Linked DNA regions of Homo sapiens. The protein of the gene in region 6 purifies or fractionates together with the protein of the main gene of each other region. This does not show direct contact. Each region holds a gene or a part of one and is shown on either strand. Other genes may lie near its edges.

The links.
Region 1: the proteins of SLC2A5 (region 6) and TMCC3 purify together in Homo sapiens (affinity purification with mass spectrometry; one large-scale study listed by BioGRID and IntAct). This does not show direct contact.
Region 2: the proteins of SLC2A5 (region 6) and FTO purify together in Homo sapiens (affinity purification with mass spectrometry; one large-scale study listed by BioGRID and IntAct). This does not show direct contact.
Region 3: the proteins of SLC2A5 (region 6) and ATP12A purify together in Homo sapiens (affinity purification with mass spectrometry; 2 studies listed by BioGRID and IntAct, with this or other methods). This does not show direct contact.
Region 4: the proteins of SLC2A5 (region 6) and PEX3 purify together in Homo sapiens (affinity purification with mass spectrometry; one large-scale study listed by BioGRID and IntAct). This does not show direct contact.
Region 5: the proteins of SLC2A5 (region 6) and PDXDC1 purify together in Homo sapiens (affinity purification with mass spectrometry; one large-scale study listed by BioGRID and IntAct). This does not show direct contact.
Region 7: the proteins of SLC2A5 (region 6) and SPTLC1 purify together in Homo sapiens (affinity purification with mass spectrometry; one large-scale study listed by BioGRID and IntAct). This does not show direct contact.

What each region holds. Positions count from the first base shown.
Region 1 is NC_000012.12:94,573,745-94,578,173, forward strand, and holds part of TMCC3 (transmembrane and coiled-coil domain protein 3), read right to left. Parts: intron 1-4,429.
Region 2 is NC_000016.10:54,116,656-54,120,155, reverse strand, and holds part of FTO (alpha-ketoglutarate-dependent dioxygenase FTO), read right to left. Parts: 3' UTR 1-3,500.
Region 3 is NC_000013.11:24,697,069-24,701,497, forward strand, and holds part of ATP12A (potassium-transporting ATPase alpha chain 2), read left to right. Parts: intron 1-1,589; coding exon 1,590-1,782; intron 1,783-3,678; coding exon 3,679-3,854; intron 3,855-4,429. UniProt on the Homo sapiens protein: The catalytic subunit of a H(+)/K(+) ATPase and/or Na(+)/K(+) ATPase pump which transports K(+) ions in exchange for Na(+) and/or H(+) ions across the apical membrane of epithelial cells.
Region 4 is NC_000006.12:143,470,376-143,474,804, forward strand, and holds part of PEX3 (peroxisomal biogenesis factor 3), read left to right. Parts: intron 1-585; coding exon 586-710; intron 711-1,007; coding exon 1,008-1,074; intron 1,075-1,181; coding exon 1,182-1,236; intron 1,237-1,784; coding exon 1,785-1,953; intron 1,954-4,410; coding exon 4,411-4,429. UniProt on the Homo sapiens protein: Involved in peroxisome biosynthesis and integrity. Assembles membrane vesicles before the matrix proteins are translocated. As a docking factor for PEX19, is necessary for the import of peroxisomal membrane proteins in the peroxisomes.
Region 5 is NC_000016.10:14,981,189-14,985,617, forward strand, and holds part of PDXDC1 (pyridoxal-dependent decarboxylase domain-containing protein 1), read left to right. Parts: intron 1-3,330; exon of another isoform or gene 3,331-3,470; intron 3,471-4,429.
Region 6 is NC_000001.11:9,055,703-9,060,131, reverse strand, and holds part of SLC2A5 (solute carrier family 2, facilitated glucose transporter member 5), read left to right. Parts: intron 1-1,881; coding exon 1,882-1,980; intron 1,981-2,523; coding exon 2,524-2,684; intron 2,685-4,429. UniProt on the Homo sapiens protein: Functions as a fructose transporter that has only low activity with other monosaccharides. Can mediate the uptake of 2-deoxyglucose, but with low efficiency. Essential for fructose uptake in the small intestine.
Region 7 is NC_000009.12:92,049,105-92,053,533, forward strand, and holds part of SPTLC1 (serine palmitoyltransferase 1), read right to left. Parts: intron 964-4,429; coding exon 856-963; intron 1-855. UniProt on the Homo sapiens protein: Component of the serine palmitoyltransferase multisubunit enzyme (SPT) that catalyzes the initial and rate-limiting step in sphingolipid biosynthesis by condensing L-serine and activated acyl-CoA (most commonly palmitoyl-CoA) to form long-chain bases.

The DNA.
Region 1 (4,429 bases), on a different chromosome or scaffold from region 6:
TCTGAAAAGGAGCACAGACTCACCTCAGGGCTTCTGCATATTCAGTACACTCTGCCTGAGACATGTGCCTCCCCCACTCCATCCCTTCTTCACCCGTGGATCTCCCACTCATTTTTTAGGTCTCGCCTTGATTGCCACATCCCTGGGGAAGCCTTTCCTGATCCATGAGATGAGATCAAGTCTCCCTTCAGCTCTCCTCCCCAACCACAAGACATACGCTGCCTGAGGACAGGAACTAGCCCATCTTGCATTTGCTGTCCTCTCCAGCACAGAGCCAGCGCCAGGCATGCAGCACGTGCCACACACTGGCTGAATATGAAAGAGACAGCTAGGTGCCAGTAAGAGAATGTGAGGCTTGATGGGTACAGTGGCGCATGCCTGTAATCCCAGCATTCTGGGAGGCCGAGGCGGGTGGATCACTTGAGATCAGGAGTTCAAGACCAGCCTGGCCAATATGGTGAAACCCCCTCTTTACTAAAAAAAAAATACAAAAATTAGCTGGGCATGGTGGCATGCACCTGTAATACCAGCTACTCAGGAGGTTGAGGCAGGAGAATCACTTGAACCCAGGAGGCGGAGGTTGCAGTGAGCCGAGATCACGCCACTACACTCCAGCCCAGGCAACACAGTAAGACGGTCTCAAAAAACAAAAAAAAAAAACAGAATGTGAGGCTTGAGAGAGAAACCTTCAGGCCTGCTGGGTGAAAAGGATCTAACTAGAGGTAGTACAATGTGCCCCTCTCTGTTCTAACTCATTTGCCCATCTGTGTTTGCTCAATTAAAATATAGTCACCTTTTCAGGTTTTAAACAAGAATAATGGCTCCAAGATTGATTTGCTTTTCTTCTGCTGAATAACTCTATGGGCCAAAGAACAGGTTCTCTGTTACTATAGTAACTTCTATTATACTAGGCTACCAACGAAAAGGATAAAACTTCTTCAGATCTTACATTCTAGAAAGTGCTGGCTTTCAGCAATAACAGGCATGTACTAGAAATCATGTGTTCTTTTCAACTACTTGGGTCCAAGGTTTCCTCTATTTTAGGCATAACACAGAAAAGGTGATGGAACAAGACAAAAGACCAACCTTTTAGGAAAATCCATGAATCTTTGATTATAAAATGAATTACGTGTACAAATAGACCGATCTTAGAATTGTCTTACAACTGCTGTCAATTTTTTTTAACCAAAAGAAAAATCCAAGAAAATTAAGGGTGAATTCCAAGGAATTTGAGTCACAGCAGCCAGAGTATTCAGCCCCACAATTTTTGGTACTTCCTTGGGTCCAGTAATTAACTTATTGGGGATGATGACCATAAAAAGGGGTTATCTTGAAACATTTCTAACTGGGAATTCAGGGTTTAAAAAACCACTCAGTTGTTTAAAACAACAAAACCCTGACATCCCTGCAGGCAACAGCCTCCCTGTCTCTGGCAGCCCATTCCCTTTGTGTAACCGTGCCTGTAAGAACAAAACAAATAAGAAAAAATGATGAAGTCAAAAGGCCCAACTGCTAGAAGCCCTGAGGATTGTGGCTACTCCCGGATGTAATAAAAAGAATGGACAGTATTTATTTTTTGACTGTTTACTATGTGCCAGGCAAAGATTTCAATACTTTACATGATTATTCCATTTAATCTTCCTTGACAACCTTTTGAGGTAGAGCTCATTAATATTTCCATTTTATTAAGGAGGAAACTGAGGCACAGAGCACTAACTCATCCAGGGTCACACAGCATAGGTGAGGAGGGCCAGGATTCTAACCAACGTGACAGGGAAGACACTCCAGTCATTCACACAGATGTCCTCTTTACACTTCTGAGTGAGAGATGAAACCAGAAAACGTCGAAATGAACCTCTCTGGATTTTTAAGTTCCCTTTGTGTGGTCCCTCCTTCACCACTAAAATATGTTTGTTAAAACACAGAAGAACAATATTAACCCAAACTATCCCCTAAATAAGAAAACCATGCATTCAGATACCACCCAGTGACACCCGAAACATGCTCTAAAATAGAACGACTTCGTGAAGCAATTGTACTGTTCACTTGGCAACATTTTTATTTGTTTTTTGGAGACAAGGTCTTGCTCTGTCGCCCAGACTGGAGTGCAGTGGTGTGATCACAGCTCACTGCAGCCACAAACTCCTCCCTCGTCGGCCTCTCAAGTAGCTAAGTTTATAGGCATGCCACCATGTCCAGCTATAATAATTAAAAAAAAAATTTTTTTCTAATTATGTTGGCCAGGATGGTCTTGAACTCCTGGCTTCAGATGATCCTTCTACCTCAGCCTCCCAAAGTGCTGCGATTATAGGCATGAGCCACTGCACTCGGCCCACTTGGCAACAATTAACGTTTAAATGGGTTCAAGTTTCTCGAATAAGCCAGTGGTGAAGCAAAGTCTCTTAATCCAGAACAGGGCCAGAAACCTCCCAAGTGTCTTTTGAGATGCGGTCTCTGGGGGCAGAATTTCCCATCAGCTCTGATGTGTTGGTTCCCAGAACTGTCCCAAGTAGGCATCTGGGATTAGCACAGGCTCAGCCCTCAGCAGAGTGGAATAAAAACGTGGCCAGTTGAAACTCCAGGTCACACATTGCAGGATAAAGCACTATCTTTATGTTTAATTTTCTCCCTTGTAAAGTGGGGCTTGGACTTACAGCCTTCAGCCTTCCTAGAGCTGGAGAAAATGACTACTGTCCACAGAGAAAATTCATAAAAATGAAGCTGGGCATTGCTTGAAGAGTACTTTTTTAAGAGACACAGGGCCTCACTCTGTCACCCCCCAGGCTGGAGTGCATTGGCACAATCACTGTAACCTTGAACTCCTGGGCTCAAGCCATCCTCCTACCTCAGACTCCTGAGTTTCTGGGACTACAGGTACACACTGCCACACCCAGCTAATTTAAAAAAAAGTTGTTTTTAGAGATAGAGGGGTCTCACTATGTTGCCCAGGCTGGTCTCAAACTCCTGGCTTCAAGTGATCCTCCTGCCTCAACCTACCAAAGTGCTGGGATTACAGGTGTGAGCCACCAGCCCTGGGCAATTTTTTTTTAAAGGCAATCAAGGAGCCTGGGGTTGTTTCACTACGTGCTAGGATCACATTAGGAAATACTGGAGCACAACTTTGTTTATATTGATCCCATTATCCTTTCCTTCCATCCACCCAGATCCTACCCATTCCTTCCAGTCCCGCCTTCTCTAGGACATTCAATTACATTCCTTCCTTAAGAATGACTTGCAAGACCTTGTTTAGGCCACTTAACCTCTCTGTGCCTCGGTCTCCATATCTGAGAAGTGGGGATAATAACAGAAACTACCTTAAAGTGTTGCTGAGAAGTAAATGGGAAAAAAAGAAACCTGTGAAGTGTTTTGCTAGTATTGAGCACACAGTATGTATCGAAGTGCTTTAATTTCTTACAAATACGAATGCTATTATTAATTAATTAATTAATTTATTCATTTTTTGAGACAGACTCTCACTGTGTCGTCCAGGCTGGAGTGCAATGGCGCGATCTCGGCTCATTGCAACCTCTGCCTCCCGGATTCAAGCAATTCTCCCGCCTCAGCCTCCCGAGTAGCTGGGACTACAGGTGTGTGCCATCACGCCTGGCTAATTTTTTGTATTTTTAGTAGAGACGGGGTTTCACCTTGTTAGCCAGGATGGTCTCAATCTCCTGACCTCGTGACCCAACCGCCTTGGCCTCCCAAAGTGCTGTGAGCCACCGCGCCTGGCCATGTGAATGCTATTATTTTACAGATGAGTGAATAGGCTCAAGTCTTACTCAGGGCCACACAACTGATATGACAGACGTGGGACTGAACGTGGAAATGTTTTGCTACTACATGACTGACTGCTCCCATGGTCCACAGCTTGCTAGACACCACATGGCTAAATTTCTGTGGCTCACAGAGTCCGTGTCGTGTAAATTGGCCAATGTTTGTGCTGTCTTGAGTTCTTTGGCAGTTGCGCTATCCCACACTCTCCACCTAGGCAGTGAGCTGCTTGAAGCCAGAGATTGTCTCCTATTTTTACATTTTACAGTTTTGGTGGTGATGGGCTTGAGGTGGATAATAAATACTTGTTCATTGATTTAGGCATAAAGTATAAAGAATATTGTCTCTTAGCCAGGCACGGTGGCTCACACCTGTAATCCCAGCACTTTGGGAGGCTAAGGTGGGCAGATCACTTGAGGTCAGGAGTTTGAGACCAGCCTGGCCAACATGGTGAAACCCCGTCTCTACTAAAAATACAAAAAAATTAGCCAGGCATGGTGGCATGTGCCTATAGCCCCAGCTACTCAGGAGGCTGAGGCAGAAGAATCGTTTGAACTCGGGAGGCAGAGGTCGCAGTGAGCTGAGATCACCCACTGCACTCCAGCCTGGGCCACAGAGCGAGACTCACCTCAAAAAAAAAAAAAAAAAAAAAAGAAAA
Region 2 (3,500 bases), on a different chromosome or scaffold from region 6:
CAAGGCTGTCAAATTCACTTTGATTTTGGCCTCAGCTGGGCTTCATGCTTTCAGAACAATTTCTCCCACCGCCTTTCACTTGAAGTCCTTGGCAGGGATGCCTCTCCCATTCTGCACGCACAGCTCACTTAATGGGCACAAAGAAATGGGAGAAAGCTCAGGGAAAAAAGAAATAACAACCCGACCCAGTCTAAATCTTGGGAAATCGAACAGGGTCTGCATCTCTTTGAAAACTATACACAGACATTTCTGGTCGAAGTGAAACCATGCTTCTCACAGAGGGTTGGAGACAGCAAATGGAGCCTTAGTCATACACAGTTAGTTTCAAACTTATGTTGCTGCTCACAGGGAGAAATCAATGTACGGTATATTAAAAACAATCACTGCAGCCCTTAAATGATCCAATAGTTTAGCTTTGAATGCATTCAAGCTAATGGGGGCTTTAATGGCTTCTGACAGATCATTCCATTGATCAAGGGGCATGTATGAAATACGCTGCCTACTAAACTCTGTTTTGATTTTGAGAAAAGAAAACTAAACGTCCATGGTAAACATGGCTTGATTGTTCACATGTTCACCGAGATCCCTCTCAGCGTGACCCTGGTTGGGAGCAGAGGAGGGAAGGATAATGGAATCCTATATACCTGGTTTGCTTCTCTCCTGACTCTAATCAAGGCATAATCAACGGGAAACCTCTGTCTGCAGAGTTGGGGGCAGGGGGAAGGAAGGTGACCAGCGGTCCAGTTTTCTGGGTTGGATGAGTTATAAGCCACGGCTTTGGCTGTCTGAGAAACTGATTCATCTCTTGCAAGCCTTGGGGGTTTGAAGGTTAACTGTTCTGGTTCCAACGTGGAAAGCCGAATTCCCTATTTGAAAGGATAATCAGGTTTTTCAGTTGGGGACAGCAGTTTTGCAAAGAAACAAATGAAATCATGCTCCTCCATCCGTGTGTCTGGAGGCTCCAAGATTATTTTATGAAGTGCTGAACGTACCTCTACTCAAGAAAGGCAGTTTCCACAGGGTGCATGGAGTCTGAAAAACCTAAAGAGGCCTTAACATGATTCATTGAGACTATTCTTGTGCAAGAGAGGTTTCTATTTCTCCAAGCCCTGGCAGCCTGCTGTGGCTTTAAGAGTGAGCCATAGACTGTTCCTGTGTCAGACTGGTCTTGCCTGATCAGAAGTAATGAATGTATGTAGAAATTCTTCCATTACCCAGCCAAACTAAATTGGTTTCACAAAACGAATAATAATAATTTCTCTCCCTTGGACTTGAGTAGGACTTTAGCATTTACAAAGCCTTTTTCCAAATGTTATCTCCACCTGCTAGCTGCACAGTCGTGGTTTTACCTGTGTGGATGGGGATGGATCTGGCTTGTGGACCCTCTCTCCTTCTCTCGGAGGCTGGGAAGGGAAGAAGGGTGCCCTTGAAACTGGCACCACGAAGACAGTGATCACCTGTGGTCTTTGTTTAATCTTTAACACCAAGCAAGGCTGTGTGGAGGGCAAGGCGTAGTGGCTCACGCTTGTAATCTCAGCGCTTTGGGAGGCCGATGCAGGCAGATCACTTGAGCCTCGGAGTTTGAAACCAGCCTGTGTAATGTGGTGAAATCCTGTCTCTACAAAAAAATTAGCCGGATGTGGTGGCAAGTGCCTATGATCCCGACTACTTAGGAGGCTGAGGCAGGAGAATCGCTTGAGCCCATGAAGTCGAGGCTGCAGTGAGCCGTGATCTCACCACTGCACTCCAGCCTACGTGACAGGGTGAGACCCTGTCTGAAAAAAAAAAAGAAAAAAAAAAAAGACTGTGTGAAAGAGCTTCATGCCATTATCACTAATGAAGAGGGTCAGAATTACCCGAAGCACACAGGATCTGGAACCATTGAACTTCTCCTAAACTTCCTGTAGAACGGTCTTGACCCTTTTGGCCCCACCTGTAGGGCACCTTGCTGTCCTAGGCCAGCACTTCCCATCTCTCAGCAGGAAACTACCGCATTTACCAGATCAGAAACAAAGGGAATCTCCGCCTGCTAGAAGTGCTTCATTTGTATTGGTGCCATGTTTAGTCAGTGGCTTTTGTAAAATTGATGAATTTTGTCTAAAGGCAAGTGCAGACAGGCAAACAGATCTGTATCTGCTGTTATCCATTTAGCTTGACACACATGTGCAGAGGAACTATTTTACCTCAATTCTTTCAGGATTGATGAAAAGTAAATGCGAGCAAAGTCATGAACTGCATCATTGGAAAAGAATCACTGAATCTAATGCTGGAGGTTAATTAATGCTTCCCTCCCCTTGAAATAGACTGACCCTGGTACTTAGACATTCAGAGTCAATAAACAATTGTTGTACACAGATCATCCATTAGAAGGTGATGGCAAGAATTTTTTTAAGCAAATCCAAAATTGCAATGGGTGACCTACTCCCACTGTAGAAATGAGAGTCCTAAAACATCATTTTTCATAATATCTCATTTATAAAAAGTTCCATGCCATCCGCCTAGCGAAAAATGGAAGCTGTGAAGAGCAAATGGGATAATATATGGGATAGTGACACAATATTCTTCTTGAACAAGCCACAGCTATCTTTAGTCCCTTTAATATTTTGGTCAGGATATCACGGATCATATTTTTCATCATAATAATGTACATGCGTGGCGTGATTTTTAAGTACCAGACATGATATGAATCACTTAACATGGCTGATCGTAGGGGACAGAACAATCCAATGAGCTAGGCATTATCATCATCCCCATTATAGAAACAAAGACTGGAGCGCAGAGGGGTTAAGTGATTTGGCCCAGTCACAAAGCTACAACTGTTACCACAGGAAACTTGGTTAATAATAATAGCTAGTACCTCACTGAAGCCCAGTATATGTCAGGTACTGTGGGAGGCATTTTAAATACGCATTAACTTATTGAACCTTCACAACAACCTTAGGTGATGGATTACTACTATTCTATTTTGTAGATAAGACAACAAAGGTTTGAAGAGGTGGTAGAGTGAGAATCACACACAGAATCAGAACTTAAACTCAGAAAACCTCTTCTGCCACTCAGGAATCCAAAGATTTGGAAAATCTGATGAATGACAGCGGGATAGAAAGAGCAGAGGATGCAGAGAGGCTCAGTTTCCAATGTAGGAGGAGGATTTGGGCCAGAGAGCAGGAAGAACTTGGCTGACAAGGTTCTGAGAGGTGGGAATTAGGACTGTCCTGGGAGCATGGGGCCGATGGGACACAGGACTATGGGAGCAGGGCTGCCTGGGAACCGGGGTGGAAAGCTGTCTGGTCCTTCTAGCCGGGATCTGGGGGGCACTTGTGGTTCTCCTTGTTAATAAGAGAGAATGGAGAACCAGATCTTCAGATACTTTCCTGGAGTTTCCAGGAATCTATCGGGTGTCTCAGGTGAGCGAGAGAACCAGGTGAATGCCTTCTGACAACCCCCAAAACCTGCCTCCCAAACACAGCAGTGGCCCAGGGGTGCCCTTGCTGTCTTGC
Region 3 (4,429 bases), on a different chromosome or scaffold from region 6:
GATTAAGGGCAGGGACTCTGGAGCCTGCTAGCCTGGGCTCAAATCCCAGCTCAGCCACCAGATAGCCACCTATTGCTCAGTGACCCTGAGTGAAGCATTGAACCTCTGTGCCTCAGTTTCCTCCTTTGTAAAAGGGAATAATAATAGTACCCATGGCCTTAAAGTTGTTTTGAGAATAAATAAGTCGATGTGGACAGCACTTAGAACAGTGCCTGGCACGTGGTACATACCATAAAAGTGTTTCATATTATCCCTATGTTTTAAATGTAAAAAGCCTTATCTTGGCCAGGTACAGTGGCTCACACCTGTAATCACAGCACTTTGGGAGATCGAAGAAGGCAGATTGCTTGAGCCCAGGAGTTCAAGACCAGCCTGGGCAATATACCAAGACCTTATCTCTACAAAAAAAACAAAAAACGAAATTAGCTGGGCATGGTGGCACATACCTGTAGTCCCAGCTACTTGGGAGGCTGAGGTGGGAGGATTGCTTGAGCCTGGGAGGTCGAGGCTGCAGTGAGCTGTGATCGTGCCACTGCACTCCAGCCTGGGGCACAGAGTGGGACCCCGTCTCAAAAAAAAAAAAAAAAAAATTTAAGAGAGAAAGAGAGAAAGAAAAAGAAAAGGCCTATATTTTAGAAAGTGATAGAGCTGGGAGGTTTTCTGTTTGGTTTGGTTTTTGTTGGTTGGTTGGTTTTCTCAATGTCTTTACTTGATCATTAAAAAAAGCAGCAGCAGCAGCTGGTAACCCTATTTGCCCTATACTTCTTTTTGTACTCATCTTTGATACCCAGAAGTCTAAGAAATACTGATTTGTAAAGAACTGTTTTACCCAAAATTGTAGCACTTTTCTTTGCAACTTATTTTCTCCCAAACACTCCAGCTTCCTGAGATTCCTCTTGAGTGCTTAGAAGAGTACCTGGCTTATCAGAAGGGCTAGATAAGAGTTAGTCCTTTTATTCTTGTATATCGATTTTTTTTGCATATCTTATTAGGATGGATCTAGAAGTAGAATTGCTGGGTCAAGAGCATTCCTATTAAAATGGAGACTCCTGTGACTCGGCTGTCTTCCTGAAACATTATACGTGGAAGTGTCCACTTCCTCACACCCCGCCATTTTCTATGACATCCAAGCAGGAAAACTGGGTGGACAATGAGGTGAGGAGGTGCAGAAATTCCTGTCGCCTCCTCCCCTCCTGAGCTCAGAATAGTTTGGGTCTGAAAGACGGCTGCTCCCCACAGGGAGGTAGAGGAGGTGAGATGCAGAGGCTCGCAGCCCCCTAACTCTCACGGGCACCCTGGGAGATCTTGTTCAAGGCACAAGATTTCACACGCTGACGGCCACAACTAGCCTGCCTAAAGCAGCCAGTTTTGCTTGAAAGATGAGCTCCACTTATCCAGAGTGGGTGCCCCACTCTGGGCTGGGGCCAAGTCTAGAGCTCTTCGTCTTACTTGGCCACAGAAAGAAAAAGGGCGGAACATGCTGAGGATGCCATTGTGCCTCTTCCTCCTTTACATTTAATGGACCAGTAGAGAAGAAGGAATGCGTTTCACCTTTCTGTAAGTAACACGCTCAGTTCATTCCTTCCCAGCTCTCCATCCACGAGATGGATGACCCCCACGGCAAGCGCTTCCTCATGGTGATGAAGGGGGCCCCTGAGCGCATCCTAGAGAAATGCAGCACCATCATGATCAACGGCGAGGAGCACCCACTGGACAAGAGCACTGCCAAGACCTTCCACACAGCCTACATGGAGCTGGGCGGGTTGGGCGAGCGTGTGCTGGGTGAGTGCGGCGGCAGGGCCCTGCCCATCACCTGGTGGGCACAGAGATGAGGCAGGCGCCTTGAGGACCTGTGACCTAGCCCAGTGGCCATGGCATCCACGTGAAGCATGTAAAGGAGAACATGATAAGCAGGATGGGAACAAGGAGAGGATGCTGTGTGACAGCACCAAGCAGGGTGGGATGGCCTCCAGAGAGGCAAGCTCAGGGAAGACTTTATGGAAGGAGTTAAATTTCAAACTGGGCCTTAAGTGACTGCATTTGAGGGGAGATAGGGGAAAGTATCCAGGGCCCAGGGAACAGCACAGGCCAATCACAGAGGCAGAACGGCGTGGGGCACATTGGGTGCTGCCAGCAGGTGAGATGGCACTGTCACAGAAACAGGGTTCAAGGGCTGGACTGGAGGTCATGAGATGGAGGTCTTGAACATCTGGGTGAGGAGCCAGGTTTCATCCTGCAGTCAGTAGAGAGCACTGAGGGCTGTGCCACTAGAGTGAGCTGGGCAGTCGCAGGGCTGGGGAAGACTTTATGGAAGGAGTTAAATTTCTTTAACTTCTTTAAATGTCTTTGGCGGCAGCAGGGAGAGGAGAGATGCACATCTCCATAGGAAGCAGCTGCCCTTGCTCAGGCAAAAGGGATGGGAATTTTTTCAGGGTGATGGGAATGGGAAGGAGAGATCAGGGCAAGAGACTTCATAGAGGTAGAGTTTGGTAAGATTTAGAACCTATCAGAGAAGGATAATGTTTAAAAATGATTAAGCTTCCCATTTAACGACTAGGAAGAGAGTGATGCCAGTGATGCAGACAAAGTGTCAGGAAGGAAGGAACCTTAGAAATGCAACAGGAGGAGGACCCAATGGGGGTGCCTGCGGTGTTGTCAAAGGGGACAGTGTGTCCTGTTGTCAGCACCAGGGCTGGCGGAATGGTGCCCCATCAGGACCACAGAATGACAAATTCAAGGAAACAGAAGTGTATGGTTGACGATCCGGCTCATTAAACACCATGGAAGTCCTCACCAATACAGATGCAGTCTGTGGAATGTGTGTTTCTAAAGGCTATTGGAGTTGGCAAATCAGATAAAGCATATAAATGAGATGGTGATGCTTTAGGCATCCAATAACCCACAGTACCGGGTATTCTACACGGGATCGATGCCCACTTGCGTTTGATTTCTCAAAGCCTGCTCCATTGACATTTGCAAAGCAGTGGGCCAGGCTGAAAATAAATTGGATGTGAAAGCTGATCACACAATCTTGGAGGTCCCACCAGACACAAGAGTCCCTTCCACCTCAGCCTATGAGAGGCTGATGCCTTCTGAGAAAAGGATGGCTCGGCCCCATTCCTGCTGGCCTTTCTCTTGGGCTTATCTTGATCTAGCACTGAACTTTGTGCCCCTCCGCTGAACCCCCTTGTTCCTTCACATGCTGTTTTCTCTGCTGAAAATGGCCTTCCCACCTCCACCCTCCCTTTTTTCCCTAGAAATCATCTTTGCCCCTCTCAAGCTTCACCTCACATGTGACCTCCTTGGGGAAGTCTCTCCTAATCCTCCAGGCAGCTGAAATGTGTCTCTGCCCTGAGATGTACCCTATGCTTGATCCCTTTAACTCTGTGCCCCGCTAAACTTCAGAAGTCGAGACTGTGTATTGCCCTAGAACTTGGCAATATAGCAAGATATATTTCTAGAACACAGAGCCTAATGAGCTCACAGTGAATTATATTTGGATGAAATATGTCTTTCCTAAAAAAATGCATTATGGAGTTGAAGAAATTAAACAATTCTGGCTTATTCTAATGTATTGGTAAAACAGCAGAGGACCAAGGTGTATGAGCATGTTCTCCTCTTATTTTTTTTCGTTTCCTATTCTAGTTTCACTGACTCACTAATTCATCTGTATTACAGGTTTCTGTCATCTCTACCTGCCAGCAGACGAGTTTCCAGAAACCTACTCATTTGACATAGACGCTATGAACTTTCCGACCTCCAACCTCTGTTTTGTGGGACTCTTGTCAATGATCGATCCCCCTCGGTCCACCGTGCCAGATGCAGTCACCAAATGCCGGAGTGCAGGGATCAAGGTGGGAGTTATTTTCCTGACTCAAGAAGTTCTTTCTTTATGTCGTGTTCCTTTCTAATAATGGTTTTCATAGCAGATGGTCAGTATTTAGGTGTCTTCAAGTAAATATCATAATTCCTATTTTATTTCTAGTTTCACTGTGCTAAGGTTACTGAAACTGTCCCACAAAAAGAAAATGATTGTGTCTATGTGGAATGAACCACATAAACAGTAAATGCAATGAGAAGAATCTCCTAGTGCCTTGAAGTGACCATATCTCGCCCTAGTCCATGGTAGATACTAAAAGGCTTTATTGGCTGGGCGCAGTGGCTCATGCCTGAAATCCCAGCACTTTGGGAAGCTGAGGCAGGCGGATCATCTGAGGTCAGGAGTTCCAGACCAGCCATGGCCAACATGGTGAAACCCCGTTTCTACTAAAAATACAAAAAAATTAGCCAGATGTGGTGGCACACACCTGTAATCCCAGCTACTCGGGAGGCTGAGGCAGGAGAATCTCTTGAATCCAGGAGGCAGAGGTTGCAGTGAGCCGAGATCACACCATTGCACTCCAGCTTGGGCAACAAGAGTGAAACTCTG
Region 4 (4,429 bases), on a different chromosome or scaffold from region 6:
CTCAAGCGTCAGTAACAACTTCTGTGTTACCAGATCTGCTGGACATTTTCCTTCTGCTAGGACTCTCGGCAGCAGTCAACACCTTCACTCTCTCCTCTGTTTTGAACACCCTGTCCTAAGCTACTGGGAGGCCTGTCTTACCAGGCTTCCCCAGTCTTTCTGTACTTTCCTGTAGTCCTTAAACAGGCTCATCCTCCTCGGGCTGCCATTGAAGGCTAGAGTTCTTCCACACTCAGCCTTCTTCTCTTACTTGAAAATAGCTCCATTGACAACTAAGAGTTCTGAAGCTACAATTCTTTGTGCTTCCCAGACTTTTCCTTGTTTTCCTTTCTAAGCTAATAGTATATACCTCTTTCACCTAATATATTTCATTGGTTATTGTTTCAATTAAGGGATCATACCTAATTTTTATTAAACAATTGTGAGGAGAGACTGAAATATTTTGAATTGATATATTTTTATACTAGAAACAGTTGTAAATATGTTTTTAAAAGTCATCTTACAAAAAAATAACCTTAGGATGGTTCATGATTTTACACATTTGTATTAATCACAGTACCAAATGCTTTTCTTTTCTCTGTGAAGGTTTCACAAGAAGTACTGTGGCTGTATACAGTACCTGTATGCTGGTTGTTCTTTTGCGGGTCCAGTTAAACATAATTGGTGGATATATTTACCTGGATAATGCAGCAGTTGGCAAAAATGGCACTGTAAGTTTAATAGACTTAAATAGACATTGTTCTTTCCCTCAGGAGGTTCAAAGTTTAACTTATTTATCCTGATAACAATTTCTATGAAATAAATATTTTTATATTTCATGTGATTGTGAACTTTTAGTATTATGAATAATTTTTATATGTTGAAACTAGAATTTTTGGTGTGTTAAAAATTACTATTTTTCCCGTCATTTCAGATCTTGAAAAATCTCAGCCAAAGTTTTATTGAAAACATTTCTTATTTACCAGTTTAAAACTTGGATAATTGAACTGTATTTCTGTTTTATACAGACAATTCTTGCTCCCCCAGATGTCCAACAGCAGTATTTATCAAGTATTCAGCACCTACTTGGAGATGGTAAGATTCTTATTTGTGACTTTTATACTAATTTTAATTCATTTATTTTTATTATTGAGGAATTTTTAAACTAAGCAAGGCTTTTAGGTTTGTTTTTTCTTTAATAGGCCTGACAGAATTGATCACTGTCATTAAACAAGCTGTGCAGAAGGTTTTAGGAAGGTAAGGCATTTTTCTTTGACTTTTCTGACTTCTTGATTCTAATGAGTGAAAGAAAATTAGAATTGTTCTAGTGAAACCAGTGACTTGACAAACGGTGATTTGTGAAACTCTTTGTAATAAAATCAGATACCATCCTAGGATATTGCATTGTGGGATCCATTTTCTTTATCTTTTTTTTTATACAGAGGGGAAAGTTTTAATGTTTCATTGTTAATTGATTGATTTCATACAAATCAGAAATATTTGGGTCATGAGATAAAAGACCTACTTTAAAATCTGCCTCTGAGGCTTTTACCTCCCATTTATACTAGTAATATCTATAATTACAGTAGGAATTCTCTTATGGAATCCAGAGAAATACTTTTCTTGGCTCTGTAGTAATGGCCCTTAACTAGTGGCTGATTTCGTAATCCATTCTATTCCAGTCAGCAGTTACAGGTGTAAGCAGAAGAAACAGGATTTTAGATAGTAGCCTGTTAAGAAAAGAGTGTATATAGGATGTGTTGTATAGTTTCTATTTATCCCAATTCCCTTTTCTCTGTTTCTAGTGTTTCTCTTAAACATTCTTTGTCCCTTTTGGACTTGGAGCAAAAACTAAAAGAAATCAGAAATCTCGTTGAGCAGCATAAGTCTTCTTCTTGGATTAATAAAGATGGATCCAAACCTTTATTATGCCATTATATGATGCCAGATGAAGAAACTCCATTAGCAGTGCAGGTGCTTAATTCATAACCATTTAACCAAACCAGTTACTCTATTCTTTTAAAATTTTACTCTCTTGAAATTTTGATTTCTGAGTCTCTTGAAAGGTAAGTGATTGAAAAGCATATATTTCAGTAATTGAAGTAAAACCCATTAATTTAGAAAAACAGCCATTATGAGTGATTTCTAGTAAGAAGCACTTAACAATTTTAGATATTCAGTACATTTTTATTATCAGGTATGTGACAGTAGATACTGTGATGTATTCTGGAGATGTAAAATGTGTAAGACATGTTCATTACACCTGGGGAACTGAAGATACAAATTCAATTGGTGGGCTGCAGCGTATTTTTGTATCAGATCAAGTAGCAGAACATAGAGCTGAAGGTCAGGGCAAGATTATAAAGAGCTTTATATGCCAAGATAACGAGTCTGAACTCCAATTTGTAGACAAAGAAAGGTAGATTTTAACCAGTCCAATAACACAATCACCTTTGCTTTTTAAAAAAGTTAATGATGAAAGTACAAAAATGGACTGAGGAGGTTATAGTCATCCACTTGAGAAACAATGTCTAATCCAAAAATTATCAACTATAGTGTTGCTAAACACTGGTGTGTCCTGGGTAGTTGTTACGTAAGTTATTCATTGATTAAAAATAATAGAAATGCCAGATTGCAGGTTATGGCTCATTTCCTAAATTAGTAATTTTTCGTTTGTCTGCTGGTTTGCACTCATTCTTTGTAATTGGGAGAACAGCTCTTACTTGACAACTGGAAAAGCCTTAGAACAGAGAGGCCCCCTATGCCATACCTCAGCAGAGAGGCCCTGTTAGAACAGAATGCCTTGTTTTCATTGCCTGCAGGATTTCCCATTGCCAGAGACAAAGATGAACCTGTTTGGGTGCTGAGAGATCCTACATTCATGAGTAGGCCAAAAAAAAAGTTGCATCCCATTTAAGGAAACCCTGTAACTTGAAAGATAGAGACTAAACTGATCAAACAGAACAGATGGAACAGAATTAATGAAACAGGAGACAACTTACAAAATAGAATCTCAAGGAGACGCAATAAGAGTATTAAGAAATCTTTTTAGGACTCTAAAGTAATTTACAGTTTTCAAAATTCAAAACAGGACCAAAAAGAAAACAAAAGAACAGATGAAGAGAGAAATGATGGACCAGATCTTACTGAACTGAATTAAAACCTGAAATTTAAGATTGAAAGGACACATAGAGTCTCAGACTAGATTGATGAAAAAAGACACACACATATCCTGATAAAATCTCTTACTGATAAAAGAAAAAAGCATAGGAGGTTGACGGGGAGGATCACTTGGGTCCAGGAGTTCAGGACCAGCCTGGGCAACATAGCGAGATCCTGTCTCTAAAAATTAAAATTAAAAAAATCAGTCAGATGGGCATAGTGGTGCATGGCTATAGTCCCAGCTACTCAGGAGGCTGAGGAGGAAGGATTTTTTAAGCTCAGCAGTTCGAGTCCGTGGTGTGCTATGGTTGCACCATTGCACTCCAGACTGGGCAACACCAATCTGTCTCTTAAAAAAAAAATGCTTTGGGAGGCCAAGGCAAGAGGATGGCTTGAGGCCAGGAATTTGAGACCAGCCTGGGAAGCATAACAAGACCCTACCCCTACAAAAAAAAAAAAAATGAAAAATTAGTATGGTGGCCCATGCCTGTAGTCCTAACTACTACTTAGGAAGCTGAGGCAGGAGGATCACTTGAGCCCACGAGTTCGAGGTTGCCTAAGCTATGATCATGCCACTGCACTCCAGTCTGGATGACAGAGTGAGACCCTTTCTCAAAAAAATAATAATAGTAAAATTAAATTAAAAAAAAAGGCCGGGTGCGGTGGTGCACGCCTGTAATCCCAGCACTTTGGGAGGCCGAGGCAGGCGGATCACGAGGTCAGGAGTTCGAGACCAGTCTGACCAATATGGTGAAACCCTGTCTCTACTAAAAATACAAATAAAAATACAAACTTAGCCGGTCGTGGTGGCGCACGCTTGTAATCCCAGCTACTCAGGAGGTTGAGGCAGGAGAATCACTTGAACCTCGGAGGCAGAGGTTTCAGGGAGCCAAGATCATGCCATTGCACTCCAGCCTGGGCGACAGAGCGAGACTCCGTCTCAAAAAAAAAAAAAAAAACCCAGACCTCTGCAAACTCAAAACCTATTTCTTCTTTGTCTGACTATACTAGAAATCTATCCAAGAAGGGCCAGATAAACAGAGCTCTTACTAAGTATAATTTTACTTTTACTCATGTCTTAAATTCTACTTATTTGCACACATAAACCATTACAGGTTTTTATTTTGGTGGGGGAGGGTCTAACTTTTTTTATTGTTGATAGAACATAGACTTAGATTTCCTAAACTCTTTATTTATGAATGTGATTAGTTTCATCATAACCCTGTGCTAATGTTTGAAAACCTTAAGTGTGACATTTTAATTCTATAGGCCTGTGGACTTTCTCCTC
Region 5 (4,429 bases), on a different chromosome or scaffold from region 6:
TATAATGCAAACCTTTACTTTACGAGTGTGCCTCATATTATTGCTGGTAGATAAAAATCAAGAAACAGGAAAAGCATTTCATCTTTACCTTTCCGATTTGATCGCTCCCTAACAATCCCTGAACAAGGTAAATCCTGAATGGTGATAATCATTCAACCTTCATCTCTGCTAAAAGCATTTCTTTTCCTCCCAGGCAAAAACAAACAGTGCCTGCTGTCTAGCACTAGTTAAACTAGTTAAACACTGCCTATAAAGCTTATCTTAAGGAAGAGTTATAACAGTATCTGCTTCTGTTTAGCAGTTTTCTTTTTGTTCCAGAATAAAGGTGTGATTCCAGGTAAACAGTAAAGTTTTTAGAAATAGAGCTTCCCTATTGTATGCTATTTTTCCATCAGTGTCATTATCTGGAAGTGTTTACTCGTGTTATAAGATCTGTGTGAACTGACACTGCAGTAGTGGTCTCTGGGAACACAGGTTTTTGGAACACGGAGTTGGATCTCTAGCATCTCCAACGTATATCTGAGTCAAGTGATTAGAGGCTTTTTCCCTCCTTCACATACTGCTCTCTGACTGAGATGTGATCTGTGCAGTTAACTTTGCTGCCTCCTTTCCACTGTTGGGTATTTTTGTCCTTTTCTTTTGTTTCTTTTTTTTTTTTGAGATGGAGTTTTGCTCTTGTTGCCCAGGCTGGACTGCAGTGGTGCGATCTTGGTTCACTGTAACCTCTGCCTCTGGGTTCAAGCAATTCTCCTGTCTTAGCCTCCTGAGTAGCTGGGATTACAGGCGCCCACCACCGCGCCCAGCTAATTTTTTGTATTTTTAGTAGAGACAGGGTTTCATCATGTTGGCCAGGCTGGTCTTGAACTCTGTACCTCAGGTGGGCCACTGCACCCGGCCTATTTTTGCCCTTTTCTTTCCTATTTTCTGCCTATCTTCTTGAGGAATTTGTAAGGTTAAATACTTATAGTTACACCTTATACAGTACTTGGCTAACCCTTTTCAACTAGGAAGATTATGATGCTTAATCTTAATGAGCCAGTAATTACAGTATGTCTTCATATTCTCACAGACACACTCAAGCGTAGAGACCATGATGGTTAAAAATAAGACTTTCAAATGACAATATCCAGTTCTTAGAAGATGAGAGGAGACGGCTGAGCATGGTGGCTCATGCCTGTACTCCCAGCACTTTGGGAGGCCGAGGTGGGTGGATCACCTGAGGTCAGGAGTTCGAGACCAGCCTGGCCCACGTGGTGAAACCCCATCTCTACTAAAAATACAAAAATTAGCCAGGTGTGGTGGCTCACGCCTGTAGTCCCAGCTACTCAGGAGATTGTGCCACTGCAACAGAGTGAGACTCCATCTCAAAAAAAAAAGAAGATGGGAGGAGACAAAAGTTCTGGTTCTTAAATACTGTACTGTTGAATCAGGCAAAAATACTTACAAATGTAGAAACTGAGACTCCAATAAGATAAACCAGGTTTACAAGTCACTGTATCAGCTTGGAGGATTCCTGTCCTCTTCTCTCATCCTTGGCCCATAAGGAACATTATGTTCTTGCTGTGGCTTCTCAGTGGTATGTATTATAATAGACGTGTGTGGTGTTTGGGGAACTTGTTTAACTAGTGCTAGACAGCAGGCACTGTTTGTTTTCGCCTGGGAGGAAAAGAAATGCTTTTTGCAGAGATGAAGGTTGAATGATGATCACTATTCAGGATTTACCTTGTTCAGAAAGCTGTGGGAGGCAAGAGTAGTTAAGTTAGGAACAGCTGTCTGGAGCTTTACCTCTTGCTTTTTATCTCAGCCGAAGGTAGGTAGTGATTTTTTTTATGTCTAATGCATATGGTATAAACTAGCATCTCATAACTCCAAGGTCTTCTAATATGAGCAGCTGGTTTCTCTTTAGTTAGCCCTAAGAGGCCTCTGAAATAAGTCCTAAAAGTCCCCCAAATAAGAACATTCCTCTCCTGAAAAAAAAACTTTGTTGAAACGAAAGTATTATATACTTCTAGCATTGATGAATGTTACAATTAATATACTTTTAAAAATAAATTTTAGACTTTCTTTGTTATAGAGGCTGCTTCTCTTAAAAGCCTTCTCTTGGCCGGGTATGGTGGCTCATGCCTGTAATCTCATCACTTTGGGAGGCCGAGGCGGGCAGATCATGAGGTCAGGAGATCGAGGCCATCATGGCTAACATGGTGAAACCCCGTCTCTACTAAAAATACAAAAAAACTAGCCGGGTGTCGTGGCATGTGCCTGTGGTCCCAGCTAATTGGGAGGCTGAGGCAGGAGAATCGCTTGAACCCGGGAGGCGGAGGTTGCAGTGAGCCGAGATCATGCCACTGTACTCCAGCCTAGGCGACAGAGCAAGACTCCGTCTCAAAAAAAAAAAAAAAAAAAAAAAAAAAGCCTTCTCTTTGAAGGCTTAGCTCTGTATGTCTTAAACAGCAGTTATTCATGTCAGTTATTCATGTACCATCTGTGAATTTGGCCACATCACTGTACCACCTATACTATTATTTGCTTAGTATTTTCTTTTAAATCTACTTTACATCAATTTACTCCCCCTTTATGAAAAATTGAGGAACCGTTTACTTACAACAAATAGACCCATTTTAATTATATAGTTTGTGTTTTGGAAGTTGTATATAGTGATATTACCACCAGCATGATCAAGATACAAAGCATTGACCTGGTGCAGTGGCTCACACCTGTAATTTCAACACTTTGGGAGGCCAAGGAAGGAGGATCTCTTGAGCCCAGGAGTTTGAGGGCAGCCAGGGCAACACAGTGAGACTCCTATCTCTATAAAAAATAAAAACTTAGCCAGGCTTGGTGGCATGCACCTGTAGTCCCAGCTACTTGGGAGGCTGAGGTGAGAGGATCGCTTGAGCCCAGGAGGGTGAGGCTGCAGGGAGCCACGATAGTGCCGCTGCACTTGGCCTGGGTGACAGAGTGAGACCCTGTCTCAGAAAATAAGTCCCCTACCCACCCACCCCAAAAAAGGTACAGAGCATTTCTGTCTCCCTGAAAATGTCCCTATGTCCCTTTGCAGTGGATCCCTGCCCTGCTTTCTGTCACTCTAGACCTCTTTACCCACCCATCCCATCCCTGCACCCCCGCCTTTTTTTTTTTTTTTTTTTTTAACTTAGATTTGTCCTCAACTGTAATGTCTCTAAATTCTGGGATTTGAGGTGTGTGTTTGTGTGGGTTTTTTTTTTTTTTTCCAAATCACATAAAAGTGAGAGAGAGAGAGAGAGAGAGTGTGTGTGTGTGTGTGTATACATATATATATATATATATATTTTTTTTTTTTTTTTTTCTGAGACGGACTCTCACCCTGTCGCCCAGGCTGGAGTGCAATGGCGCCATCTCGGTTCACTGCAACCTCCGCCTCCCGGGTTCAAACGATTCTCCTGCCTCAGCCTCCTGAGTAGCTGGGGTTACAGGCACACCACCACGCCCAGGTAATTTTTTGTATCTTTAGTAGAGACGAGATTTCACCATGTTGGACAGGCTGGTCTCAAACTCCTATCGTGATCCGCCCGCCTCTGCCTCCCAAAGTGCCAGAATTACAGGCATGAGCCACCGCTGCCAGCCAAATGTATAATTTTTTAAATTCACACTTTGGTGAACTGGTTTAACTGAGGAAAAGTGTTGATTCGTGTGTTTTCAAAAGATGAAATTTTTTTTTTTCCCCTGAAACAGAGTCTTGCTCTGTCACCTAGGCTGGAGTGCAGTGGTGCATTCTTGGCTCACTGCAACCTCTACCTCCTGGGTTCAAGCGATTCTCCTGCCTCAGCTTCCTGAGTAGCTGGGATTACAGGTGCCCGCCATTGCACACGACTAGTTTTTGTATTTTTAGTAGAGATGGATGGGGTTTTACCATCTTGGCCAGGCTGGTCTCGAACTCCTGACTTCGTGATCTGCCCACCCCGGCCTCCCAAAGTGCTGGGATTACAGGTGTGAGCCACTGCCTAAGATGAAAAAATTTTTAAAGTGACTAGTTCATTAATTCCCAAATCTTAGGCTCTAAAGACACCTTTTATTTCTATTGTAGTTACCAGTTTTGGAAGATATGATAAACAACTTTTTTTTTTTTTTTTTTTTTTTTGAGACGGAGTCTTGGTCTGTCGCCCAGGCTGGAGTGCAGTGGCACAATCTCGGCTTACTGCAAGCTCCGCCTCCCGGGTTCACGCCATTCTCCTGCCTCAGCCTCCCTAGTAGCTGGGACTACAGGCGCCCGCCAGCACACCTGGCTAATTTTTTGTATTTCTAGTAGAGACGGGGTTTCTACTGTGTTAGCCAGGATGGTCTCCATCTGACCTCGTGATCCACCTGCCTCGGCCTCCCAAAGTGCTGGGATTACAGGTGTGAGCCACCGCGCCTGGCCTTGCCAATTTATAATTTTCCGTTAGCTTTTTTG
Region 6 (4,429 bases):
TTGTGTGTGTGTATAGTGTGTGTGTATTGTGTGTGTTGTGTGTGTAGTGTGTGTGTGTAGTGTGTGTATTGTGTGTGTGTGGTGTGTGTGTACTGTATGTGTGTAGTGTGTGTGTGTAGTGTGTGTGTGTGTGTGTGTGTGTGTGTAGTATGTTTTTGCTCTTCACCAGGGCTCCTTGCAGGTGCTGCTCTTCAGAGGTTCACTCCACCCCATCTGGGGCCCCATGACAAGGCAGGAATGATCATTGTTTCTCTCCCTTTCTGGCTCCTCACTTACCTCTCTCAAGACATCCTCTTTAGGCCGGGCACAGTGGCTCATGCCTACAATCCCAGCACTTTGGGAGGCTGAGGCAGGAGGATCGCTTGAGCCCAGGAGTTTGAGACCAGCTTGGACAATATAATGAGACCCCTGTCTCTATAAAAATATATTTTTTAATTAGCCAGGCATGATGGCATGCACCTGTAGTCTCAGCTACTCGGGAGGCTGAGGTGGGAGGATCACTTGAGCCCAGGAGGTTGAGGTCACAGTGAGCTATAATAGCACCACAGCACTCCAGCCAGGGCAAGAAATGTCTCAGAAAAAAAAAAAAAAAAAAGATTCTCTGTAGATTTAGATACCGTGGGATAGTGCTTGTCTTGTCACTGGAGGGCCAAGCATGAACCTGTGTTACCTGTGAAAGGGGGCTCTCTGGCCAGGCGTGGTGGCTCACGCCTGTAATCCCAGTACTTTGGGAGGCCAAGGCAGGCAGATCACGAGGTCAGGAGATTGAGACCATCCTGGCTAACACAGTGAAACCCCGTCTCTACTAAAAAATACAAAAAATTAGCCAGGCGTGGTGGCGGGTGCCTGTAGTCCCAGCTATTTGGGAGGCTAAGGCAGGAGAATGGCGTGAACCCAGGAGGCGGAGCTTGCAGTGAGCCGAGATTGCGCCACTGCACTCCAGCCTGGGTGACAGAGCAAGACTCTGTGTCAAAAAAAAAAAAAAAAAAAAAAAAGAAAGAAAGGCGGCTGTCCATCAGAGTAGATGGAAGAAGGTCCTTTGATGGCAAGTCAGAGAGCAGCGTCCCAAGCTCTCTCCAACAGCAGATTCACCTCTGCAGCTAGACATGGTCGTAATTAATCCTGGCAAACACTCTGGTAGGGAGTGTGATTGTCCTCATTTCAGAGATGAAGAAACTGAAGATCCTAGAAATTAAGCTGAAAAGTGGCAACAGGTAGATTCAAAACTGAGGCCTGTAGATTTTAAGCCCGCAGCTCTTTCCATGTCTGTCTCCTGCTCTTCATTACTAATGAATTTCCTCTTGTCATTAAAGATTGTCTGAAAGGAAATTTTCAGTGGCCAAAATAGCTAAAATTTTCTCTTTTTCTCTTTGATTTTCTGGGAGTTTATGTTTGAGATGGTGCAAGAGCACATTTGCTGCAGTTGGCAAATGCCCCACGTGGCAGGAATGTCACAGGAGCAATTCAAACAGCTGCAGTAGCTGCAGTGTTAGAGAAGTAGGTTTCAGCTTCTCTCTGATCCAGTGGTTCTCAAATGGAGCACTTCCCCACCAGGGGACACTTAACAATGTTGGAAGACATTTGGGTTGTCGCAGCTGGGGAGAGGGGTGCTACTGGCACCATGTTCACAGGATGCTGTAAACATCCTGCTGTGCTCAGGACAGCCCCCATAACAAAGAATTATCAGACCCCAAGTGTCAAAAGTGCCATGGTTGAGAAAGCCTGTAACCCAAGGTGGGTTGAGGGTAGGTTTCAAGGAATGGAGTAGTCTCAAGACTATGGATCTTCAGATTCTGTTACATCTTTCTACGAAACCGAAGTAAAGCGGGAGGGCCCTGGAACCCTGGGGCTGCTTCCTGACCTAAGCTGTGATCTCTGCAGAGGCTGACGCTTGTGCTTGCCCTGGCAACCCTGATAGCTGCCTTTGGGTCATCCTTCCAGTATGGGTACAACGTGGCTGCTGTCAACTCCCCAGCACTGGTAGGTCACTGTGGTGAGCAAGATGTGGGGAGGACGTTTGGAGCAGCCCATTGCCTGGGTGGGACTGGCCAGCGTGGGGCTGTTCACGCAGTGGGTCCTGAAGCAAAGGGAGAGGGAAACACCCTCCGGACACAGCACAGACCCGAGGGAACTCGCAGACACAGGTCTCTTGGGATGGGCCAGGTCTGGATGGACACACAGTGGGCCGGGCTCTAGGAGGGGGCTCAGATCTTCTGTGGCCTTGCTGTTTAGAGGGAATCCGGGGGGGCCAGGGGTCTCCCAGCTGATTGGAAAATTGGAGTCATCCCTTTCTGGCTGAGAAACACCCAGGGTGGTTTGCTGCTGAGAGGCTTCCCAGCCCTCCCGGTGGGTGCCCACCCTTCTCACTGCTCCTGAAGCTCTGTCCTGCCTCCCATCACCCCCCGGTTAATAAGGTTGGTCTCTGTGTGCCCAGGTTATTTCATTGGGTGTCCTAACAGCTAATGTTCTTCTTGCAAAACCGGATCAAATTATTTTGGTGTTCTGTTTTGCTTTGTCTCCTAGCTCATGCAACAATTTTACAATGAGACTTACTATGGTAGGACCGGTGAATTCATGGAAGACTTCCCCTTGACGTTGCTGTGGTCTGTAACCGTGTCCATGTTTCCATTTGGAGGGTTTATCGGATCCCTCCTGGTCGGCCCCTTGGTGAATAAATTTGGCAGGTAAGGGAAGGTGAATTTTTAATTCCCTGAAACTCATAGACCCCCATCAGAGCTAAAATACAGGCCTACAACTGAAATCCTTACCATGAGACTAAGATAATAACCACTGTGGTCATTTTTCTTTTTTCTTTCTTTTTTTTTTTTTTTTTTTTTTTAATTTTTGAGATGGAGTCTTGCTCTGTCAGCCAGGCTGGAATGCAGTGGCGCGATCTTGGCTCACCGCAACCTCCGCCTCCCAGGTTCAAGCGATTCTCCTGCCTCAGCCTCCTGATCCTGGGATCACAGATGTATACCACCATACCCAGCTAATGTATTTCTAGTAGAGACGGAGTTTCACCATGTTGGTCAAGCTGGTCTCAAACTCCTGACCTCAGGTGACCCACCCGCCTCAGCCCCCCAGAGTGCTGGGATTACAGGCGTGAGCCACTGCGCCTGGCCGGTCATTTTTATTTTCTAATGGGGTCAGAAAAGAAGATCAGACATTGACAGTGTTTGGGGACCTAGGCAGGGTCTCAGGGGTTAGAAGCAGGGGTGGCCAGGGATCTACAGGCCCTCGGGCAGACCCGGAAGGAGCCGTGTGTGCTTGTGGAGACCCAGGACTTGCTTCTGCTCATACTGCCCTTTTGCCCCACAGTGTCATCTAGGACATCTCTCTTGTGACACCAGCCTCGTGAACAAAGGGGTCAGGGCTGTATCTTTGCCCCTATTTCTAGAAACATTAGAAATGCCATATTTTATTTCAAAAAAGTGTCCTTAAGATGTCACGCTCCCCCGTATAAATTCCATGGACATTATGGAAGACCTAGTTAGAAAGAGAATTTTAGAGGTCCCCTTGTCCAACCCGTCTAGGGATGAGGAGCACGTGGGGCTGAGTGAGGTCACAGATCTAGTGAGCCCAGAGTAACCCAGACTCTGACTCCTCCTCCAGTATTTCAAGAAAAGAATCTGAGAATAAAAACACACAGCTGGGCGCAGTGGCTCACGTCTGTAATCCCAACACTTTGGGTGGCAGAGGCGGGCGGATCACCTGAGGTCAGGAGTTGGAGACCAGCCTGGCCAACATGGTGAAACTCCGTCTCTACTAAAAATACAAAAATTAGCCGGGCATGGTGGTGGGTGCCTGTAACCCCCCTACTCGGGAGGCTGAGGCCGGAGAATTGCTTGAGCCTGGGAAGCGGAGGTTGCCGTGAGCTAAGATCGCACCATCGCACTCCAGCCTGGGCAACAAGAGCGAAACTCCGTCTCAAAAAACAAACAAACAAAAAACACCGCTGCAGCTTTGGGATCTAACATCCTCTTGAGAGATTAGTGTTGAACCCACAGTTTTCCCTGTGGGCCCTCATGGAGCAGAACATCCCTCCAGTCAGAATCAGACCTGCCGGACACTTCTTGAGTTAAGAGCACGCCGCTTGGCCCACAGATGGAGCTGAAGGTTGCTAATTGAGCTGTCTACTTAGGAGTCTGATAAACACTATTTGGCTATTTGCCGTTTTCTTAAGTATTTGTGGGTGTTATTTATTTCTTTATTTTTTGAGGTAGAGTCTTGCTCTGACGCCCAGGCTGGAGTGCAGTGGTGTGAAATTGGCTCACTGCAACCTCCACCTCCTGGGTTCAAGCCATTCTCCTGCCTCAGCTTCCCAAGTAGCTGGGATTACAGGTGTCTGCCACCACGCGCAGCTAATCTTTGTATTTTTAGTAGAGACAGGGTTTCACCATATTGGCCAGGCTGGTCTCAAACTCCTGGC
Region 7 (4,429 bases), on a different chromosome or scaffold from region 6:
GTCTGCCTTGGAGGAGGTGCTTCCATCCAACCTCCCGGGATATTCACTCTGCTTTACATTTTTCTCTGGGACTATATGGTTAGCGGGATGTCGATAATGTAAGGCAATTTTACGTTTTATAGTTCAACTCTGTAACACAGGTTGCACAGCTCTTATGCGCATGTTTTGGAGAAAAAGCTTTCTGTAACTCTTCCCATGGTGGTTGGTAAGACAGCTGTTCAAGACTGGCTGACTTCCTCTGCCCTGAGGCTCCAGGAGCAAAACCCACTAGGCACTGCGGGCAGTCTGGGTCCATTTCCCTCAGAAAAGGAAACATGACACCTCATTCTGTTTGGGACTTTAAGAGGTTTTGCTGAATGCATGCCAGTGGTGTTTCTGACACACACACACATGCACACACACACGCACGCACGCGTAACTGTATCTACCTCCCACAAACACATTATATAGAATACAGATTTTTAAACACCAGAAACAGTATCCTTTCTCTGCCGTCATGAATACTTCTGAAAAGACCACTCAGGAAATTCCTAATGATTTTAAGAAATAATTGGAAGGCAAAATTTAACCATTTCTAGAGAAGAGACACTAAAAGTCTATTCGAATGAAACTTTGCAAACAGAGCACAAACCATGACTACCCACTCCGAGTTTATAAGTGCAGAAGGAAGATGGGGTTCCCTGGTCTGGCTGACTAGACTCATCCTGGGCTCACTGAGGTGACAGACACCAAAGTTTCGTGACCCTTCAAACTGATAAGGAACACTGTCTTGTGCCTATAAAAATATAGGCCTAGCAGAATGGAACTACATGTCTCCTATAAGAGGGGAAACGTTCTTAAAAAAGGGGAACTTACATTGATTCCATAGTGTTCAGTGACTCCTCGGCCATGCTCTCCTAGGACTCCAAATGAAAGGCTTTCCTCCAGGAAGATTCTTGCTTTGTATTTGTATTTTAACTTAACCTAAGTGTTATATAAACGTTAAAATACTAATGATTAGCACCATATAGAACATATTATGGAGAAAAAAATTAAGATTAAAAAGTATGTACAGCTGACTCTCAATACTTGTGAATTCTATATGTGCAAATTCATCTACTTATTAAAACTTATTTGCAACCTCCATATCAATACTTTTTTCCTGTCATCACGGATATGTGCATGTGCAGAGCAGTGAAGAATTTGAATTACCTGACACGTGTTTTCCCAGGTGAGGGTGAACAGGCGACTGTTTCAGCTCTGATCCTGTGAACAACTACCCTTTTCATGGCCTATTTACTGCCACTTTTTTGGACTTCTGTGCTTTTTGTTGGTGATTTTGCTATTTAGAGTCGCCCCCAAGTGTCATGCTAAAGTGCCGTCTATTACTCCTAGTGCTGTGATGTCCCTTATGGAGAAAATTTGTGTGTTAGAGAAGCTTTGTTCAGGCATGAGTGGTAGTGCAATGAATCAACAGACATTAAATAAGACACCTTTAAACAAAAATACACATAAAGCAAGTTTTGTGTCAACTGGTTGATGAAAATGTTGTAACCAGAGGCTCAGAGGAACCTAACCCTATTATTTGCCCTAGCAGCAATAGTTTAGTATTTCTTATTCCAGTGTTCATGGCAACTTTATAGAATATAAGTAGGGTGAATGATGAGAATCAATTGTCCTTTAGATGGTCTAAAATGATTCACTTAACAAAAGACAGCACAATACTGATTTTTTTTTTTTTTTTTTTGAGACAGAGTCTTGCTCTGCCACCCAGGCTAGAGTGCAGTGGTAGGATCATGGCTCACTGCAGCCTTGACCTCCTGGGCTCAAGTGATTCTCCTACCTCCGCCACCCAAAGTGTTGGGATTAAAGGTGTGAGCCACCATGCCCAGCTTCAGTGCTTATCTACACTTGAGCTGTTCCTACACTTCATCTTTAGTTTCGTATCTGTCCATTAGCACTGCTTCATTACTGTAGCCCTATAATATACGTCCTAGTATCTTCTGGTTCACTACCTCCCTCCCATTATTCTATCAACCATTGACACTCTTACAAAAACAAAAAGAAGAAAACAAATACATCTCTTCTATTGATACTTAAAATATATTTAGATTTCCTCAGAAATAGTGAAAACATTTAAAAACAACATATGGAACCCTTATTTTGAATCCTTATTCAATTAATAGACTCCTAGATTAAAATCTCAATGGCCGAATGCAATGGTGGTTCAACATGGAAAAATCAAATATGTATTACATACACATTAGAAGAATGTAGGGGGAAAAACCCCACATGATCATCCCAATAAATGCAGAAAAAAAATTTGACAAAATCCAACAACCTCTCATGATAAAACACTCAATAAATTAAAAATGGGAAGGAACTTCCTCAACCTGATAAAAGGTTATTATAAAAAACTCACAGCTACCATCATACTCAATGGTAGAAGACTGAAAGCTTTCCTTATAAGATCAGGAACAAGACAAAGATGCTCATTTTCGCCACCTGTAGTCAACACTGTAGTCGAGGTCCTAGCCAGGGCAATCAGGCAAGAAAGATAAAGGGCATCCAAATTGAAAAGAAACAAGTAAAATTATCTCTATTCACAGATGGTGTAATCTTATACATAGAATAAGATCCACAAAAGTATTATTTGAGCTAATAAATTCAGCAGAAGTTACATTATGCAAAAGCAATACACAAATATCTGTTGTATTTCTATAAATAGCAGTAAACAATCTAAAAAGGAAATTAAGGAAACAATTCCATTTATAGTAGAATAAAAAAATCAAATACTTAGTGATAAATTTAACCAAAGAGGTGCAGGACGTATATACTAAAAATCACAAAACATTGCTGAAGGAAATATCTAAATAGATGGAAAAATCCCAAGTTCATGGACTGGAAGACTTAATATCATTAAGATGGTAATACTTCCCAATGTGACTACATATTCAATGCAATCCCCACCAAAATCCCAACAATACTTTTTACAGAAATGGAAAAGCTAATCCTAAAATTCAAATGGAATTTCAAGAGACCCCAAATAGCTAAAATAATTTTGAAAAAGAACAAAGTTGAACTCACATGTCCTGATTTCAAAACTCACTACAAAGCTACAATAATTGACACAGTGTGGTACTGGCATAGGACAGATATATAGAAGAATGAAACAGAATAGAGTCTAGAAATAAACCCATACATCTATGGTCAATTAATTTCAACAAGGGTGCCAAGACCAGTCAATGGGGAAACATTAAACAAATGATGCAGGCAAAACTGGATAACCACTTGTGAAAGAATAAAATTGGACCTCTTCATCAACGCATACGCAAAAATGAACTCAAATGAACTACAGACCTAAATGTAAGACTGAAAACTATAAACTCTTAGGGGGAAACATAGCAATAAATCTTGATAATTTTGGATTAAACAAAGATTATTATTATTATTTTTTTTTTTTTGAGACAGAGTCTCGCTCTGTTGCCCAGGCTGGAGTGCACTGGCGTGATCTCGGCTCACTGCAACCTCCACATCCCAGGTTCAAGCAATTCTCCTGCCTCAGCCTCCCGAGTAGCTGGGATTACAGGCGTGTACCACCACACCCGGCTAATTTTTTTGTATTTTTAGTAGAGACGGGGTTTTACCATGTTGGCCAGGCTGGTCTCGAACTCCTGACCTCAAATGATTCACCTGCCTCGGCCTCCCAAAGTGCTGGGATTACAGGCGTGAGCCACCGTGCCCGGCCAGATTAAACAAAGATTTTAAAATAAAACACAAAAGCACAAGCAACAACAAAACACATAAACTGGACATCATCAAAATTTTTAAAAACTGTGTGTCAAAGGACAGTATCAAATAAATGAAACAAACCCCCACAAAATAGGAGAAAATATTTGCAAATCATGTATCTGATAAACATCTAGTATCCAGAATATACAAGGAATTCTTTTAAAAACAAAAAAACAACCCAATTTAAAAAATGGGCAAAGCACCTGAATAGATATGTCTCCAAAGGTATACGCATGGCCAAACAAACAAACAAACAAAAAAAAAAACAAGAAAAGAGGCTCAGCATCATTAGCCATTTGGGGGAAACAGGATCAAAACCACAGTGAGATACTACCTCATGCTCACTAGGGTGGCTAAAACAAACCAACAAAAAACCCTGGAAAATATAAGTGCTGACAAAGATGTAGAGAAACTGTAACCCTGGTATATAGCTGATAGGAATGTAAAATGGTGCAATCGCTGTTGAAAACAGTATGTCAGTTCCTTATTAAGTTAAACACAGAATTACCATATAATCCAGCAATTACCCTGCTAGATATATACATAAAAGAACTGAAAACAGGAATTCAAACAAATACCTGTACACAAATGTTCACAACAGCACTATTTGCAATAGCAAAAAGGTAGAAAGAACCCAAATATCCATCTGTGGATGAAC